Homo sapiens: one gene and its partner. The protein of the gene in region 1 binds, or shares a complex with, the protein of each later gene. Each region holds a gene or a part of one and is shown on either strand. Other genes may lie near its edges. The genes, in order: SPTLC2 and SPTSSA.

The links.
Region 2: the proteins of SPTLC2 (region 1) and SPTSSA are in contact, whole or in part, in a cryo-EM structure (PDB 7K0K), measured with the Homo sapiens proteins. Residues at the interface, in NP_004854.1 of Homo sapiens: Leu73, Gly77, Val80, Leu81, Phe84, Leu87, Arg88, Leu91, Leu126, Arg129, Ile130, Tyr156, Met475, Pro476, Ala477, Lys478, Gly480, Ala481, Arg484, Glu485, Asp533, Leu534, Leu535, Gln536; in NP_612145.2 of Homo sapiens: Trp15, Tyr18, Gln19, Leu21, Leu22, Val23, Thr24, Ala25, Tyr27, Met28, Leu29, Glu30, Pro31, Trp32, Glu33, Val36, Phe37.

The regions. Positions count from the first base shown.
Region 1 is NC_000014.9:77,505,191-77,508,637, reverse strand, and holds the end of SPTLC2 (serine palmitoyltransferase 2), read left to right. Parts: 3' UTR 1-2,641; downstream 2,642-3,447. UniProt on the Homo sapiens protein: Component of the serine palmitoyltransferase multisubunit enzyme (SPT) that catalyzes the initial and rate-limiting step in sphingolipid biosynthesis by condensing L-serine and activated acyl-CoA (most commonly palmitoyl-CoA) to form long-chain bases.
Region 2 is NC_000014.9:34,432,232-34,438,490, reverse strand, and holds the end of SPTSSA (serine palmitoyltransferase small subunit A), read left to right. Parts: intron 1-3,186; coding exon 3,187-3,290; 3' UTR 3,291-5,703; downstream 5,704-6,259. UniProt on the Homo sapiens protein: Component of the serine palmitoyltransferase multisubunit enzyme (SPT) that catalyzes the initial and rate-limiting step in sphingolipid biosynthesis by condensing L-serine and activated acyl-CoA (most commonly palmitoyl-CoA) to form long-chain bases.

The DNA of each region.
Region 1 (3,447 bases):
GGGGGATGAGTGGCTTCCATGGAGAGATTTCCTGATTTCTCAGGGAGGAAAAAAGTGATGACATTTACCACTACTTTTATGTTTTTCCCCTTTTTCCAAATTGATAAGGATTTCTGGTTCCTAGTGATCCGGGATTGGGCAACAGTGCAGAACTGCCAGTCATGCCGTAGGCCGTGAAGAAAGAATGTGAGTAACTGTTGTTTTGCAAGGATTTGTAGGGTTATGGGCAGTTGTTGTTTGAAGCATTGCTATGACCTAATTCCCAAGGTATCTTTCCTCTCTTGGTGTTCTAGGTAAGCCAATGAGCTTTAATCTCTACTTGCTATAACCGTGTGCTTAGAAAAAGAGGTGAGAGTAGTGGTTTTCCTTCAAACTGTCCACATTCATGAAGATTATGAATTGTTAGGACAGCCAGGGCAAGATAGACCCTGTCTCTACAAAAATTTTTTTCTAAATTAACCGGGCATGGTGGTGCCTGCCTGTAGTCCCACCTGTGTGGGAGAATCACTTGAGCCTGGGAGGTCAAGGCTGCAGTGAGCCATGATTGCACCCCTGCACTCCAGCCTGGGTGACAGAGTGAGACCCTGGCTCAATAAGAGGGGGAAAAAAAATTGTTAGGAGCTGGGTGCGGATGCAGCCTGCAATCCCAGCTACTTGAGAGGCTGAGGCCGGAGGATTGCTTAAACCCAAGAATTTGAGCGTAGCCTGGGCAACACAGCAAGACCCCATCTAAGAAAAAAATGTTTTTTAAATCAGCTTAGCCCAAAGGGGTTGTGAATGGGGAGGTATAAAAAGCAAAGATTATTTTTTGGCTACTAAGCCAAGAACTTACAGGGATTTTTTTTTTCAGTCCCAGAACCTACAGATACCCTGCTACTTGCTTCACGTGGATGCTCAGTGCCCAGCAGCCATCTTAATACATTAAACCAGTTTAAAAAATACCTTCCATGTGGAGAAAAACATGTCTTTTTCTCGCCTCAACTTTATCCACATGAAATATGTGCCCATGGCTGGGCGCAGTGGCTCACCTGTAATCCCAACACTTTGGGAGGCTGAAGCAGGCAGATTGCTTGAGGCCAGGAGTTCGAGAACAGTCTGGCCAACATGGCGAAACCTCATCTCTACTAAAATTACAAAAATTAGCCGGGCATGGTGGCACATGCCTGTAATCCCAGCTACGTCAGGAGGCTGAGGCACAGGAATTGCTTGAACCCAAGAGGCAGAGGATGCAATGAGCCAAGATCACACCACTGCACTCCAGCCTTGGCGACAGAGGGAGACTCTGTCTCAAAAAAAAAAAAAAAAGGTGTGCCCAGGCCCCTAGCCATTGCCATGTGCCCAGCCAGAGAGCCAAATTAGAGGGCTGGCTTCCCTATCACACAGAATAAATGCTAGTGCTAGCCAATGATCCCTTTGCTTTTAATGTATAGAAAATACTGTTGTTCCTTTTGTCATTTCCAGTGACATCTGTTTTCTAAGCAGCTCTTTTCTAGGGAGGAAACCAAAGGGGCTAGGTTAAGACCCTAATAGAAATGTTTTTTCTAATCTCTGGTGAGTCTGGAAGTGTCACATTCACAGTCCACCCTTGGGAGTGGCTTGGTGGAGCTGGGGACAAGGTTTTGTTTACTACATAGTGCACATGATAAATGGCCTTAAACTGTGATTCTTTCTGGTAGGATAAGTTATAATAAACTGACCCTAAAGAATGCAATGGCTTTTAAACTGCAGTTACTGTGTTCTTAATGAAGCAATACCCAAAGCTCTGTTCTTTTGGAGCACTTGAGGGGAGCTTGAATGAAAGGTGCAGATAAGAGCAGTACCTTGATCTTATGCTTTCTGAGTGTCCTGCCTTGTTGCCATCTGCATGGATGAGTGAATGCTTCTATGCACGAGGAGACTCAAGCCAACTCAGAGTCTGCTTTTTCCAACGCTCTTCCCAGGTTTCTTTTGCAAAGCTTGGTCATTTGGCCCAGGTCTTCCTGGAAAGTGGAGTACATGTCACTGACTAGGGTGGCGTGGTGTCTTTACCCTTAACATTAAGTCTTGTTACCTCAGTGATGTGAAGCCAATGGTTGGAATTATAAAAAGCATCCTTGCTGGTTCTTCACAGGACACTGGAACCCACCCTGTCAATTCAGCTAGCATGTCCACACAGTCTTGATGATCCCTCTCTGTAACAGGCAGCTAACATTAAGAGAAGGGGGAAAGAGAAGAAGAGAGCAATAGCTTATGGGAGAGCTGAGATCTTACTTCGTTGACCCATATTTTTCCCCTGACCAAGTTACCTGTAAACTGGAATTTGCAAGGGGATGCTGTGATGATAACCCCTTTCTATTGCTGTAATGTTCATATAACCTGGGAAACTGAGAGAAGGGGATGTGTAAATAAAAGCTTAAACATTTTAGTAATGTGTTAAAATGTCACTCTCTCTTACCCTGTTTCCCTTTTTTGCCAGATGATGATTTTTTTATTTTTATTTTGTACTTTACTGGATGACTGTGAAGCGATGAGTATTGGGTTGGGGTAGGTGTGTTGATTTTGAGAGTGCATGTTAAGAACTGAAGGGGAACTACTTGAGATGACTTAAGAAGCATCCCATGCAAATATCTTGTTTTGCCCTAATAAAATATTCAGAAAGATATATCTGCCTTTATTCATTCAACCAATACATATTGAGTGCTATCTCTCTGATGGGCAGCACACTGAGCTTTGTGGTTCCTACTTGCTAGTAAACAGATAAGCACATGAACATACATGTCATTTTACAAACTGTTAAGTGCTATGGAGGAAAAGTAAAGAGCTTGGTAAAAGTAACCAGGCCGGGCGCGGTGGCTCACGCCTATAATCCTAGCACTTCAGGTGGATCACTTGAGGTCAGGAGTTTGAAACCAGCCTGGCCAACATGGCGAAATCCCGTCTCTACTAAAAATACAAAAATTAACCAGGCATGGTGGCACGTGCCTATAATTCCAGCTATTTGGGAGGCTGAGGCACGAGAATCGCTTGAACCTGGAGGCAGAGGTTATAGTGAGCTAAGATCACACCACTGCACTCCAGCCTGGGCAATAGAGCAAGACTGTCTCAAAAAAAAAAAAAAAAGACAGTAACCATGATCTGGTTTAGACAGGGGTGAGAGAGAAAACTGAGGACGTGGAGGGTCTGAAATAAAGTACAGTTGGAGCTTGATTAAAAACTGTGTGGGGAGGTGAGGTAGTGGGGAGGTGGTAGAGGCAGACTCACTGGGCTTTGTAGATCTTGGTGAGGTCTTTCTCTTATGCAGGGGGTGGGGGTCAGACTAGTGAAAGGGCTGGGTTTTTAAAAAATTTTTTAAATTATTACCTAAAGTGGAGACAGAGTTTCACTGTGTTGCCCAGTCTCGAATTCCTGGCCTCAAGCAATCCTCCCGTCTCAGCCTCCTGACATACTGGGATGACAGGCATGAGCTGC
Region 2 (6,259 bases), about 43 Mb from region 1:
TGAGGTCAGGTTGACAACATGAAGGTACAGAATGGACATCCCTAATCTGAAAATGAAAAGTCTGAAATGCTCGAAAATCCAAAACTTTTGAGCAACAACATGACAGTCAAAGGAAATGCCCGTTGGAGCATTTTTGATACTGGATTAGGTGTGCTCACCGGGTTAAGTATAATGCAAATATTCTAAATTTAAAAAAAAAATCTGAAATTTGAAATACTTCTCAACTCAAGCATTTAGGATGAGGGATACTCAACCTGTAGTTGTTTAAGTTATGAGGGAATATGGGGCCCAAGACAAAACGATGGGAATTCCATTTTATCATCTGGAACGTTTTCAGCCGCAAGTAACAAAATTGAGCAAGCTACTTTAAGAGTAAAGGGGATTGGCCAGCTCGGCGTGGTGGCTCACACCTGTAATCTCAGCACTTTGGGGGGCTGAGGTGGGAGGATTGCTTGTCCCCAGGAGTTCAAGACCAGCCTGAGCAACATAGGGAGACCCCATCTCTACAAAAATAATAAAGAAATCAGCTGGGCGTGGTAGTGCGTGTTTGTTGTCCCAGCTACTTGGAAGGCTGTGGTGGGAGGATTGCCTGAGCCTGGGAGGTCGAGGCTGTGGTGAACTATGATTGTGTAACTGCAGTCTAGCCTGGACAACAGAGTGAGACCTTGACTCAAAAAAAGTAAAGGGGATTTATTAGTTTAGTATGTAAAAATCCAGTGGTAGGGTGGGATTCAGGGTTTTTTGATGAGGATTCTGACTCCATTTTTCTGTGATTATTTTTGTCCTGCCACCTTCTTGAGTCAGCTTTGTTCTGAATCTTGCTTTCCTCATGGAGGTAAAGTGACTCCAGTGATTGCAAGATTCCATCAGCAAGCTGCATATTGTAGGAGAGAGCATCTATGTTCCTGAATTCCTGGCTGAAGTCCTAAGCTTTGAGCTGATTAATCAGTTTTGATGTAGGGCATTGTTACCAAGCAAAAGAGATCCCTCTAATTGGTTAAGACCAGTCAGGGGTTATCCATGAAGATGGGTTAGTCTAACCAAAAGGGCATGGCTGCTATACTAGGAGGAGAGTGGATGTTTGCAAGGAAAGCACAAAGTTCACTCTTATCTATCATCCATCATAAAGGAAAGAGCCAGTGAAAAACAGGGAAATGGTAAGAGAGATTAAAAGAGGGCCTTAGAAAATACCTGAGCCCAGAGTAGAGTTTTAAAGAGTGGAAAGGATTGTTTTGTTTTGTTTTCTGTTTGTTTTTTGAGACAGGGTCTGGCTCTGTTGCTCAGGCTGGAGTGCAGTGGTGCCCTTCCGGCTCACATCAGCCTCCAGAGTAGCTGGCACTACAGGCATAAATGGAAAGGGTTTTGAAGAAGAAGGACTAAAACAGTGTCAATTCAAACAGCCTTTGGATTTGGTGGAGACCACCAGTGATCTTAGAACAATGCCTACAGTCTGGAGGAGTAAGAATCAGATGGTGTGTTGGTGATGAACAAATATATGCCAATGATATAGAAGCAGCAAATGTATATATTTTTCTTTCTCTCTTTTTTTTTTTTTAAAGAAATTAGTAAATAGAAGGCGGCAGTTTAAGGAATAACTGGATTAAGGGCGGTTAAAAAGTAAATTGTAAAAAAAAGATTGTGAAAGACTTTCTGCTCTTGTTTGCTGGATGAAGAGAATGAGTTTATGGCTTGAGTCAGGCAGTCTTGGTTTGACCTCTGGCTCTAAAGACAGCTTCCTGTATGGCCCTGAACAAGCTACTCAGTTTTCTCAGCTTCTGATTAGTGATGAACATAATAAACATTTCATAGGAAAGCTATAAGGGTTAAGTAAGATAATGTAATTGTGGAAGAGATTTGTCAACTAACCTGTTATACAAATATTAGTTGATAGTAAGCACATTGTTTATTTAAACCCTATCTTCTCATAAAAGAATGTAAGTTATTTTAAAAATAATAGTATGTATAGCTGAAAGGTATGTAGAGTTGAGAAAGGGGAAAGGCAAGTGAAAGAGGAGAGAGAGAGAAGAATGAGAATATGAATGAATTAATAAAGCATGACTCCAGTTCAAAAACAGTTATTCCTCTTAGCATCCTATGTAACTGTGCAAAGCCAAAAGCCCTTAGATTTGACATAATTTTTGCTAGCAGTATTTTGTGTGGCCCCAGAGAGAGGCCTCTTGTTGACTTCCATATATACAGTTTCAGTTCCTTTTGTAATAAAAAGAAAGGAACATGGTACAGAAAGGTTATTGTTTAGGTTATCAAGATTACCTTTATTTGAAGTTGTTGCAAATAGTAGCAATAGTGATAATAATGTTTAATAGTGATAATAGCAGTAGCAGTTGCTGTCATCCCTAAGCTAGTGTATGATTGATTTTAGCTTTGTCTGACTCTAAAAATACTTTTAGCCACATTCTAGTCTAATTCTAAAATTCTTTGATCATACATTCTTATTAGTTAAGTTGGTAGATCTTTTATAGTAATTAAATAGAATTTTATTCCTGTATATTTATTTCTTAGGTAGAACAGTATCACATTCTATGCTTCATTTTAAGCAGTCCTGCCGGGCGCAGTGGCTCACGCCTGTAATCCCAGCACTTTGGGAGGCTGAGATGGGTGGATCTCCTGAGGTCAGGAGTTCGAGACCAGCCTGGCCAACATGGTGAAACCCTGTCTCTACTAAAAATACAAAAATTAGCTGGGTGTCATGGCGGGCACCTGTAATCCCAGCTACTCAGGAGGCTAAGACAGGAGAATCACTTGAACCCAGAAGGCAGAGGTTGCAGTGAGCCGAGATCGTGCCATTACACTCCAGCCTTGGGTAACAAGAGCAAAACTCTGTCTCAAAAAAAAAAAAAAAAAAAAAAGAGAAACAAACAAACAAAAACATTTGAAGCAGTCTGATATTTTCAACTACACAGGGAGAATAACAGTACTTACTTTATATGGTGATAGTAAAGATAGAATGAGCTAAAAACAAAATAAAACAAAACCAGCTTAGAGTGGTGCCAGGCATGGTTGTTAGTGGCTAGTATTATCATTCTTGTTGTTTTTTTTATCAGTGCTTGATATAAATGAGAAAGCACTAAGTGAATGGGTACTTCAGCATAAAAGAGTTGTTGAAGACATGTGGAGATTTAGTTTTGAATAAATTAATAATAATAAGTTTCCTTAACTACAACTCAGATTCCATGCTGGTTTCCATTGTGGGGATGGCACTATACACAGGATACGTCTTCATGCCCCAGCACATCATGGCGATATTGCACTACTTTGAAATCGTACAATGACCAAGATGCGACCAGGATCAGAGGTTCCTTGGGGAAGACCCACCCTACGAAGTTGGAATGAGACCATCAGATGTGATAAGAAACTCTTCTAGATGTCAACATAACCAACCTTATAAAGACTAAAATTCATGAGTAGAACAGGAAAATCATCCTGACTCATGTGTTGTGTTCTTTATTTTTAATTTTCAAAGAGGCTCTTGTATAGCAGTTTTTGTCTATTTTAACATTGTAGTCATTTGTACTTTGATATCAGTATTTTCTTAACCTTTGTGACTGTTTCAATATTACCCCCGTGAAAGCTTTTCTTAATGTAACTTTGAGTACATTTTAATTGCCTTCTATTTTTAAAACTCAAAATCATTAGTTGGGCTTTACTGTTCTTGCTATTGTATGGCATATACATCTGCCTGGATATATTTCTACTCTTGACCAAAGTTTTGTAAAGAACAATATAAGATTTCGGGTAGGGGTATGGGGAGGGAAGATATTTTATTGAGAACTACTTAACAAAAGATTTATCTGTAAGCTTGAACTCAGGAGTACAGTTTTAGCTATCTAGACTCTAACAGCTTTTGCTTTAAAATTATTAAAGTGTTTCTTAATGAAAAAGAAAAGATCTTGCTAAAGTTAAAATAAGGAACATTTCACCTTTTAAATATTTAATTCTTATGTGGACTTATTTCCAGAAAACTTTGGTGATAATTCTTGAGACAAAAGGTGGTTAAGTAGCATTATTATGTAATGCTTATATACCATAGAGTTTTTAATAGAAGAGAAATCCATTTCCTCCGAGGGTCACTATTAACAATGTACTTCCTTAAATTTAGTTTAATGATTGTAATGGGTGCTGCATTTGCACATTGCATTAAGTTATGATGAGACGAATTGTTGTTAAAAATTATAGCAAAAAGAAATGTAAACTTGGTTAAAATCCTTTCACTCTTTGTATTGTTTTTTTTAAGGTTTTTATTCCTTAAATGTAAAATGACTACCTAATTTTTTGATGTAAATACATTAAATTCAAAGAGAAAAAAAATCAGCTGATGTAGCAGTATATCTTTTCCTTGATGGTTAAATATTGATCTAGTATTTATATTGCTGAATTATTTTCTGTGGAGGACCAGATAAGCAGTAAGTATGTCTTATCCTATATGTTTTGCAACATAAAAATATTGCTAATTGAAAAGAATTAGGCAATTATGTGTGTTGCTGGGTTGTTTTTTTGTTTTTTTTTTTTTGAGACGGAGTCTTGCCCTGTCGCCCAGGATGGAGTGCAACAGCATGATCTCGGTTCACTGCAACCTCCATCTCCTGGGATCAAGTGATTCTCCTGCCTCAGCCTCCTGAATAGCTGGGATTACAGGCACCTGCCACCATGCCTGGCTAATTTTTTGTATCTGTAGTAGAGACGGGGTTTCACTGTGTTGGCCAGGATGGTCTCAAACTCCTGACCTCCTGATCCACCTGCCTCGGCCTCCCAAAGTGCTGGGTTTACAGGCGTGAGCCACCGCGCCCGGCCAAAATTGAGGTATTTTTTGCCCTACGTTTTAAGGACTAGACTTTTGAAGTATTTTATAGTCTAGAGGTCTCAAGTAATATATATGTGTTTAATATTTTTAGAGCCAATTGATACCACAATTAGATAGGAGTAGTGAGAATAATATGGAATTACTTGGTTTGAAGTAGTTAAAAATTGGATATGGTTATATCTGAGCTGTAGTCATATTATCTCAAGAAAAATAATACGAGGATTTAACATAAGATTTGTTCTATTAATGCCCAAATTTGGCTTTCCTCTACTATCCCCCATAGAGAACCACTAACAAGTGGATGTCTAATATTCCTCTGGTGAGTTGAAGGCAGGAGAAGTTGAGAATCATTAGTTTCAATGAGTATCCAGGTGACCTATCCTGGCCCTCTACTCAGAAACCGGCAATTTGTCTTCACTCTGAGATTCATTAAATTGCTGTTGTATAACTGATGGTTATTATGAACACTGACCTGTGAGACATATGGAAGATAAAGTTTGGTCTTACAGGAAATCTTGAGGAGAGTCAAAAGAGAAATGGGAGATGTCTCTTGAGAGGTGATCAGAGAAGTTTATGCTCACTGTCTGATGCAAATGTCTGGTCTATTTGTTAGTAAATAACAGGGAAATCATTTTCACTTTTTGTTAAAAATAAGGTATTTACAAGCATACCTTGTAGTTATTGTGGGTTCAGTTTCAGACCACTGCAATAAAGTGAATATCTCAATAAAGTGAGTCACATGAAGTTTTTTGGTTTTCCCCTGCATATAAAAGTTACATTTACACCATCCTGTAGTCTATTAAGTGTGCAGTAGCATTATGGCTAAAAAAAAAAAACACCCAATATACCTATCTTAATTAAAGAATTATTTATTGCTGAAAAAAGCTAATGATTATTTGAGCCTTCAACAAGTCATAATTTTTTGTTGGTGGAGGGTCTTGCCTTGATGTTGATGGCTGCTGACTGATCTGGGTCATGGTTGCGGAAGGTTGGGGTGGCTATGGCAATTTTTAAAAATAAGACAACAATAAAGTTTGCTGCATTGATCAACTCTTCATTCATGAAAGATTTCTCTGTAGCATGTAAGCTATTTGATAGCCTTTTACCCACAATGGAACTTCCTCCAAAATTGGAAGCAATCCTTTCAAACCCTGCTGCTGCTTTATCAACTAAGTTTATAAAATATCCTAAGTCCTTCATTGTAATTTCAACAATGTTCATAGCACCTTCACCAGGTGTATATGCCATCTCAAGAAACCACTTTCTTTGCTCATCCATAAAAGGCAAAACCTTGTCTGTTCAAGTTTTACCGTGAGATTGCAGTAATTCACTCACATCATCAGGCTCCATATGTAGTTCTCTTGCTATTTTTAGCATATCTACAGTTAACTTCCTCCACTGAAATTTTGAACCCCTCCAAGTCATCCATAAAAGTTGGAA